Linked DNA regions of Homo sapiens: region 1 is linked to region 2. Evidence: fine-mapped expression QTL. A gene starts in region 2. The other region holds a variant in brackets. All regions are shown on one strand. Distances are from middle to middle.

What was found.
Region 1: its variant is fine-mapped to the expression of SNAPC1 in whole blood (INTERVAL, PIP 0.96).

What each region holds. Positions count from the first base shown.
Region 1 is chr14:61,785,800-61,789,799 of GRCh38, forward strand. All of the region lies in intron 8 of SNAPC1 (small nuclear RNA activating complex polypeptide 1), which reads left to right. Among named protein-coding and RNA genes, the nearest start is that of SYT16, 25 kb to the right of the region's middle. The variant A/ATATCT (reference allele first, on the strand shown) is at 2,268.
Region 2 is chr14:61,759,573-61,764,076 of GRCh38, forward strand. SNAPC1 (small nuclear RNA activating complex polypeptide 1) reads left to right here and starts at 2,848. Exons shown (of 10, transcript NM_003082.4): 1 at 2,848-3,016. The coding sequence starts at 2,889. RefSeq lists enhancers at 842-1,586, 1,587-2,330, 2,174-2,263, 2,331-3,074, 3,075-3,818.

The sequences.
Region 1 (4,000 bases), 26 kb after region 2:
TGCATTTTCACATAAGCAATAGGGGAGAGGAAGCAATCAGATATGCATTTGTCTTAGGTGAGCCTCAGAGGGATCACTTTGAATAGAATGGGAGGCTGGTTTGCCCTAAGCAGTTCCAGCTTGACTTTTCCCTTTAGCTTAGTGATTTTGGGGTCCGAAGATTTATTTTCCTCTCACACTGCTAAAGAAATTAAATTCCCAGGCTTCTCTGGAAATTTTAGCAAACATTTAAGAAAGGAGTGATCTAGATTCTTTCAGAAAATGCAAGAGGGAACACTTTGCAGCTTACTGACATTGCAAGAAAGAACTAAAGACCAATATCCCTTATCTTATCCAAAAAAAAATTCAAAATGGATTATGGACCTAAATTTGAAACCTAAATTATAAAACTTGTGAAAAAATATGTAGGAGAAAAATGTTTGTGTTCTTGGGTTGGGCAAGATTTTTAAATACATGACACAATAACACGAGCAAATCATGAAACAAAAAAAAACTGATAAATTGGCATTCTCAAAGTTACAATTTTTGTCTTCAAAAGACACTGTTAAGAAGATGAGAAGATAAGCCACAGACTGGGAGAAAATTTTTGCAAACTACTACGCTGATAAAGGTCTTGTATCCAAAATAGTAATATTTAAAGAAGTCTAACTCAATAAATATACAGCCCACCCAATGAAGAAATGGCTAAAACATTTCACCAAAGAAAAGATATGGATGGCAAATAATCATATGAAAAGATGCTCTGCATCTTTAGTTACTAGAGAAATGTAAATTAAAACCACAGTGACACTCCACTAAACCCTGAATGGCAACAACAAAAAGACCCCACAAAGCAAAACAAAAATTGTGATGAAAAAAGCTGTTGAGGATTTGGAACAAGTGGAACCTGCATACTTTTCTGGTGTGAATCCAGAATGATGTGGTTACTTTAGAAAACCTGTAGTTTTTAAAAGGTAAACGTGTACTTACCATCCGACCCAGAAATACTATTCCTTGGTATTTACTCAAGAGAAATGAACACTTAATGTTCACACAGAAATGTGTATGCAAAAGTTTATGTGGCTTTATTCATAATTGCAAGAACTGCAAACAGCCTAAAAATCCTTCCACTGCTGATTGGATAAACTGTGGCATATCCATGCAATGAAATACAACCCAGCAATAAAAGAGCTATCATACATCTAACAACATAGATGAATCTGAATTCAGTGTGCTCTGTGAAAGAAGACAGACACAAAAGGCTATATACTCTGTGATTCTATTTATATGACATTCTGGAAGAGGCAAATCTGTAGGGACAGAAAACATATATTTGGTTGCTACGGACTTAGGGGTAGGGGAAGGTATTAAATGCCCAGTGGCACAGAGAAACTTTTGGGGTGATGGAAATCTATATTTTCGTTGCAGTGGTAGATTGCACAGCCGTGCATTTGTCCAAACTTCTCTGTATAGCAAAAATGGGTGAATTTTATTGTATGTTAATAATACTTCAATAAACCTGACTGATGGCCAAACACGAACAAAAAGAGAGGACATAAGGAAAAGATTGTTTAGTTTGATTATATTTCAAAAATTAACTTCTGGTAGATTAAAATGTTTTTTTTTTTTAAAGAAAATGTTCAGCTGAATTAAATTTAAAGGAGTTTAATTGAGCAGTGAACATTTCCAGTATCGCACAGCCCCTAGAATCACGGCAGATTCAGAGACTCCAGTGCAGCCACGTGGTGGAAGATGTATAGCCAATAAAAAGGAAATGAGGTACAGAAATCGGAAGTGAGGTACAGAACAGCTGGATTGGTTACAGCTCGGCATTTGCCTTATTTGAACACAGTTTGAAGACTCAGCAGTGTATGAATGGTTGAAGTACTGCCGCTGGGATTGGCCAAGTCTCAGCTATTGTTAAGGCACATACTCCTAAATTTGGTTTTCAGTCTTGTCTACCTATTAAGCTAGATTGCAGTTGGTCCACAAGGACTCAAATATAGAAGTACGGAGTCCTTCTCAGGCCATATTTAGTTCACTTTAACATAAGTACCAAAGATAGTTAGGTTTAGAAACCCTCACAAGCACTTTTTATTAATTGCCTTCATATAGGCACAGCAACGTGATGAGCTGGCCAAGCTGCTTTCTTGAAGACCTGAAAAAAAAATTTTTTAATGTGGTTGGGGAACAAAGGAGGAACAAGAACAAAATAGGAAAAGAAAGAAGTTAAATGAAATTAACTTTCATCTTGAATGTGTGACAGTTATAATTTATGATCACCAATC[A/ATATCT]TAATTAGTTGCTGAAAACAACTGTTTTGTAAATTCTGAAACTAACTGAAGGACAGGCTCTATAGTACATCTGAGATTTGTTAATGAATTTTCTCAGGGTGTTAGGGAGGATTTACCCATGAGAAAGAATAAAGTATTATAAAATGTGATCTGAATTCAGATCTCCATCATGGCTTAACTAATCCAGCTAAGGTATTGTAAATACTCTGAAGCAGAAGTAGTTACCTGAATAATAAAGACCCAAATGCTTACTTTGTAGTTTCTCATTAATCAAACGTTCATTTCCATACAGTGGAAAGGTGTTTTTGATTTTACAGTTTTTCAAACAGAGGAGCCTTCAGTTCCATAAAAGGCAAAAGATCTTACAAATCCATTTGCACATATGATACTATTAAAATTTCTAATTGTAAAAGAGCTTTTATAAATGAATAAGAAAAGGGCCACCACCCAGTAGAAAAATAGCTTAGGACATGAACAGGCAATAACAAATGCAGGCAGACAGTCAGTGCATATAGGAAATAATTGAATTTCATTTATAATTAAAGATATATAAATTAAAACATGATTTTTATATTATTTGATAAAGATTAAAGATAATACCCATTGATAATGAAAGTGTGAGGAAATAAAATCTCAGTTTAAGTGGGAGAGTAAATTGGCACATTCTTTTCATAGAGCAATTTAGAATCAGGTCAAAATTTTAAATGTACATGCTTTTTAGAATTGCTAGGAATTTATTCTGTACAAATCATAAATATAAAAGGAAATTCATTGCAGGATTATTTGAAATGGCAAACTGTAAACAACTCAAATGTATAATGGGTAAATAAAATTATTGTCAGTCCATACAAAGGAATACTTTGCAGTTACTAAAAAGCTAGGGAGGCTGGGCACGGTGGCTGACGCCTGTAGTCCCAGCACTTTGGGAGGCCGAGGCAGGCAGATCACAAGGTCAGGAGTTCAAAACCAGCCTGGCCAATATGGTGAAACCCCACCTCTACTGAAAATACAAAAATTAGCTGGGTGTGGTGGCGGGTGCCTGTAGTCCCAGCTACTTGGGAGTCTGAGGCAGGAGAATCACTTGAACCCAGGAGACGGAGGTTGCAGTGAGCCAAGATAGCGCCACCGCTCTTCAGCCTGGGTGACAGAGCAAGACTCCATCTCAAAAAAAAAAAAAAAAGGCTAGGGAAAGCTCTGTATTATGAAAGTATATCCAAAATATATCGACTAAAAATAAAACACAACATTATCTATACATTTCATAGTGAAAAGGCTTTTTAAAAAAGTATGATCTCGTTTCTATTAATAAAAAAATATACATACATACACACATGAACATAATATATAGCACTGAAGAAATCTAGATGTGTATGAAGTATTACCAGTGGTTAATTTTCAAGGATAGTATAATGAGAAACTACCCATAAATGTCTGTAACGTTTGGATTTTGTATAACCAAGTGTTACTTTAGTAATCAGTAGAAATCCAAAGACCTTTTTACAAATAAGGTAAACATAATTTCATAGACTCAGACAAGTAGAGGGGCTGGTGTGAAAAAGGCAAAGTAGCTGGGAAGTATAGAGTGAGGGGTCCATTTAGGCTGGATTGTAAAGGGGATATGTTGGGGAGTTAAATGTTAAAAGTGCTGGAAAAATATGTTGAGGATTGTATTGTGACCAGGCCTTAAATGTGGAATCAAGAAGTTTACACTTCAATTGGTAGGCAGAGGGGGA
Region 2 (4,504 bases):
CATACATATGGTTATACATATGGAAAAAAGTGAAATAGGATCCTTATACCATACATAGAAATAAATTTTTAGATGGATGACAGTAAATTAAAAGTGAAAGGTAATACTTTCAGAGTTTCTGAATAAAATTGCAGCAGACATGTTGGCAGTCTGTTCTGGTCTGAATGTCTCCCAAAATCAATGTGTTGAAACTTAATTAACAATGTGATAGCATTAAGAGGTAGGGCCTTAGCAGGTAATTAAGTCATGAGGACTCATGAATGGGATTAGTGATTTTATAAAAGGGCTGGAGGGAACTAGCTAGGCCTCTTTTGTCCTTCCGCTATTATGCCATGTGAGGACACGGCAACAAGGTGCCATCTTGAAAGCAGAGAGCAGCCCTCACCAGGCACGGAATCTGCCAGCACCTTGATCTTAGATTTCCCAGCCTCCCAGAACTGTGAGAAATAAATTTCTGTTGTTTGTAAGCTACCTATTCTATGGTATTTTGTTATAGCAGCAGAAATGAGCTAATACGTGGTCCAACAAAGACGTGTGCACCTCTTCCAGCGATTGAAACTATTGTTGGGGAGAGGTTGCCTAATTAGTGATGACGTTTCTCAGCCACCTTTGCACCTGAATGGGTCCATGTGACTGAGTTCTGGCCAATGGAATGTGGACTGAAATGGTGTATAACAGTGCTTCTCAAATTATCTGTTGTAATGAACCATTTCCCAAATGGTTCCCCCACTCTATCATGGGGGAAATAATGCATTTTGGCTCACTGCAACCTCTGCCTCCCAGGTTCAAGTGGTTCTCCTGCCCCAGCCTCCCAAGTAGCTGGGATTACAGGCACACGCCACTACGCCTAGCTAATTTTTGTGTTTTTATTAGAGACGGGGTTTCACTATTTTGGTCACGCTGGTCTCGAACTCTTGACCTGGTGATCCACCCACCTCAGCCTCCCAAATTGCTGGGATTACAGGCGTGAGCCACTGCGCCCAGCCAGTTGCAATACCATTTTCATAAAACTCAAAACCAACCACAACTAAAAAATATACCGTTTAAATATACATACATATGTGATAAAATATATACATGAGAAAGAGAAACAAAATTCAAGGTAGTTATTTATTTATTTTTTGAGATTCGGTCTCACTCCGTAGCCCAGGATGGAGTGCAGTGGCACGATCTCGGCTCACCACTGCAACCTCTGTCTCCTGTAACCACCATCTCCCAGGCTCAAATGATCCTCCCACCTCAGCCTCCCGAGTAGCTGGGACTACAGGTGTGCACCACCATGCCCGGCTAATTTTCACCATGTTTCCCAGGCTGGTCTCCAACTCTTGTGCTTAAGCAATCCTCTTGCTTTTGTCTCCCAAAGTGTTGGGATTTCAGGCGTGAGCCACCGTGCCCAACCAGTAGCTGTGATTAAAGTAGGGTACAGTCAAAGGAATAGGTCAGAGGAGGAAATCGCAGATTGATGTGAAGGCGTTGGTAATGTTCTGGTTCCTACACAGGTGAAAGGTGTACAGGTGTTTAACTGCTATGCTTTTTATCTCACACATCGCATAAATTTTTCTGTGACATAAAATATTACATAACATTTAAAAAACAGGTCAAGAGGGCAGGGTGCAGTGGCTCACGTCTGTAATCCCAACACTTTGGGAGGCCGAGGGGAGCGGATCACCTGAGGTTAGCAGTTCGAGACCAGCCTGGCCAACATGGTGAAACCCTGTCTCTACTAAAAATACAAACAAAACAAAACAAAACAAAATCCGGTTGGAGTGGTGCATGCCTGTAATCCCAGCTACTCGGGAGGCTGAGGCAGGAGAATCGCTTGAACTCGGGAGGCGGAAGTTGCAGTGAACCGAGACCGCGCCACTGAACTCCGGCCTGGGCAACAAGAGCGAAACTCCGTCTCAAAACAAAAAACAAACAAATCCAAACAAACAAACAAACAAACAAAAACAGGTCAAGGATCAGAAAAGTAAAGTGAGTTGACACTCCATTTACACACAGAAAGCCCAATGTTTTTCTATTATATCAGGATACCTCTTCTAAAGAATGATAGCTTACCTTTCAATCAGAGAAATGATCTAAAGTTCAAAATGTTACTCCATAGCTAGCTCCTGGAGGAAGGAAGCTAGGTGGCAGCGTGTACACAAAAAGGCAATTCATCCAAATAATAATATAACAAGAATATAACAAGTAGGTATTTTCTGCTAAGTGCTATGTAGCACAGGGGTGAATGCGTGGCAGGGCAGGAGGAGGGCTGTTTACAAGAGGGTATGAAATGCAGCTCTTCTTTTCAAGAGTGGTTGCAGAATGCCAGGGCTACAAAGAGAGGGCCGCACATTAAGCATCGTATTATGTGGGTACAGAGTATTAGGGTTCTCGATGACCAGAAGGAGAATGAGTGCAGTTTGTTTCCTAGCAAGCCTTCTTTAGCTTCTCTTCCCAAGTGGGAGTGGGGTTGGGGTTGGGACTGTTCTTTCCTAGCTCAAAAGTTCACTTATGTCACACTAGGGTCAGTTTAAAGGAGAGTGCTAGTAAGGGTAAAGTCAAGTTACATAACCTAGCGGAAAATGAAGACCTAAAACCGCTCGTGAGCAAACACAACACTTTAGACGTAAACCTCTTCCAAAGAAGGGTGGATCTCAGCACTCTGGGTGAAAGCAATCTCAGCCAGTAAAACATCAGAACGCTTTCACGCACGCGCAGTAAGCACACGACCGGTGGCAAGAGCCCGGATAAAGGCGGAGCTAAAGGTGCCGGATAATGCATCACGGAGCGCGTGTGCGCACGCCGTAGGGGGCGGGCCGTTCGGGCTTGGTTTCCTGGGCGACCACCGCTGGCTAGTCCGTTAGAGGCGTGCGGGCTTCGGAGGCGTGCGGGCTTCGGGTGCCATGGGGACTCCTCCCGGCCTGCAGACCGACTGCGAGGCGCTGCTCAGCCGCTTCCAGGAGACGGACAGTGTACGCTTCGAGGACTTCACGGAGCTCTGGAGAAACATGAAGTTCGGGACTATCTTCTGGTGGGTGTTTCTTGTCCACCACCCGCCTCTCCCTGCCCGCAGGTGGTGTAGAAAGTTGCCTCCTTCCCGGCGATATTGCACTTGTGAAGGGCTGAGAAGAGCGGCAGTCACCGAAGGTTGCCTCCATGACTCCTGGACCTTCCCCTGTGCTCAGGCAACGCGCTTTCCCTGCTCTATTTCATTGTGCCCTGATGGTTGTTGCGGCCTCCTCCCAAATATGCGTCTCTGCCTGGCCTCCCTTCTAAACTCCTCTCTCCCATCTCCACCCTGAGCCAGGCCACTATCATTTGCCCTTCCCCAGTCTTGTTCTAGGACCTGATGTTTAAAAACACACAAGCAAAGACAAAACCCTTCAAGATTGAATTAATTTTTCCTCCAACAACCAAAGTTGTCTTTTTTTTTTTTTTTTTTTTTTTTTTTGAGACGGAGTCTCCTTTTGTCGCCCAGGCTGGAGTGCAATGGCGCGTTCGCGGCTCAGTGCAACCCTTCGCCTCTCAGGTTCAAGTGATTCTCTTGCCTCAACCTCCGGAGTAGCTGGGATTACAGGTGCCCGGCACCACGCCCGGTTAATTTTTTGTATTTTTAGTAGAGACGGGGTTTTACTATGTTGGCCAGACTGGCCTCGAACTCCTGATCTCGTGACCCGCCCGCCTCGGCCTCCCAAAGCGCTAGGATTACAGGAGTGAGCCACCGCGCCCGGCCCAAAAGTTGTTTTTCAAAAGTGCAAATTTGATTATGTCACTCCCCGACTTATTACTCTGTAGTGGTGCCCATTGCCTTTGGGATAACGCTTGAATTCTCTGACTTGCCAAGACCATTCCTCACTGGCCTTTGCCTATCTCTCCAGCTTCGCCTGCCAGTCCCCTCCATGCACTCACTTTCTTGCTCCAGCAGCTGCTTTTTTTTTTTTTTTTTTTTCTTTGGGCCCTCTACAGGCTTTTCCTAATCCTGGAGTTTCCACCGCAACTCTCTTGTTTTGTCCACCTTATTCTTCACTCAGGGTTAAGCTCAAATGACATCCTCGGGGGAAGTCTTTTTTGCTCTTCTAGACTGAGTACGCTGTTCATGTTTTTTCCCCGCATAGCACCCTGTTTTTATTTTATGTCACCGCTTTCCACATTTTGTTGTAATGGTATAGTTGAAAAGGCAGTGTGGGATTGTTAAGGGCATAGGTTATGGAACCCAATTGGCTGCATTTGATTGCAGGGTCCGCTATGACTTGGGGCAAGTTACTTGAGTTTCCATATCTGTAAAATAGAGGCAATGATAAACCTCATAGTAGTTGTGAAGATTAAATGAGCTGATATATCAGAAATACATTCTAAGTGCTCAATAAATGTTCATTATTATTATTTTTTTTTCTTGAGACATAGTCTTGCTCTGTCACCCAGGCTGGAGTGTAATGGTGCGATCTCCTATCACTGCAACCTCCACCTCCCGGGTTCAAGAGATTCTCCTGCCTCAGCCTCCCGAGTAGCTGGGACTACG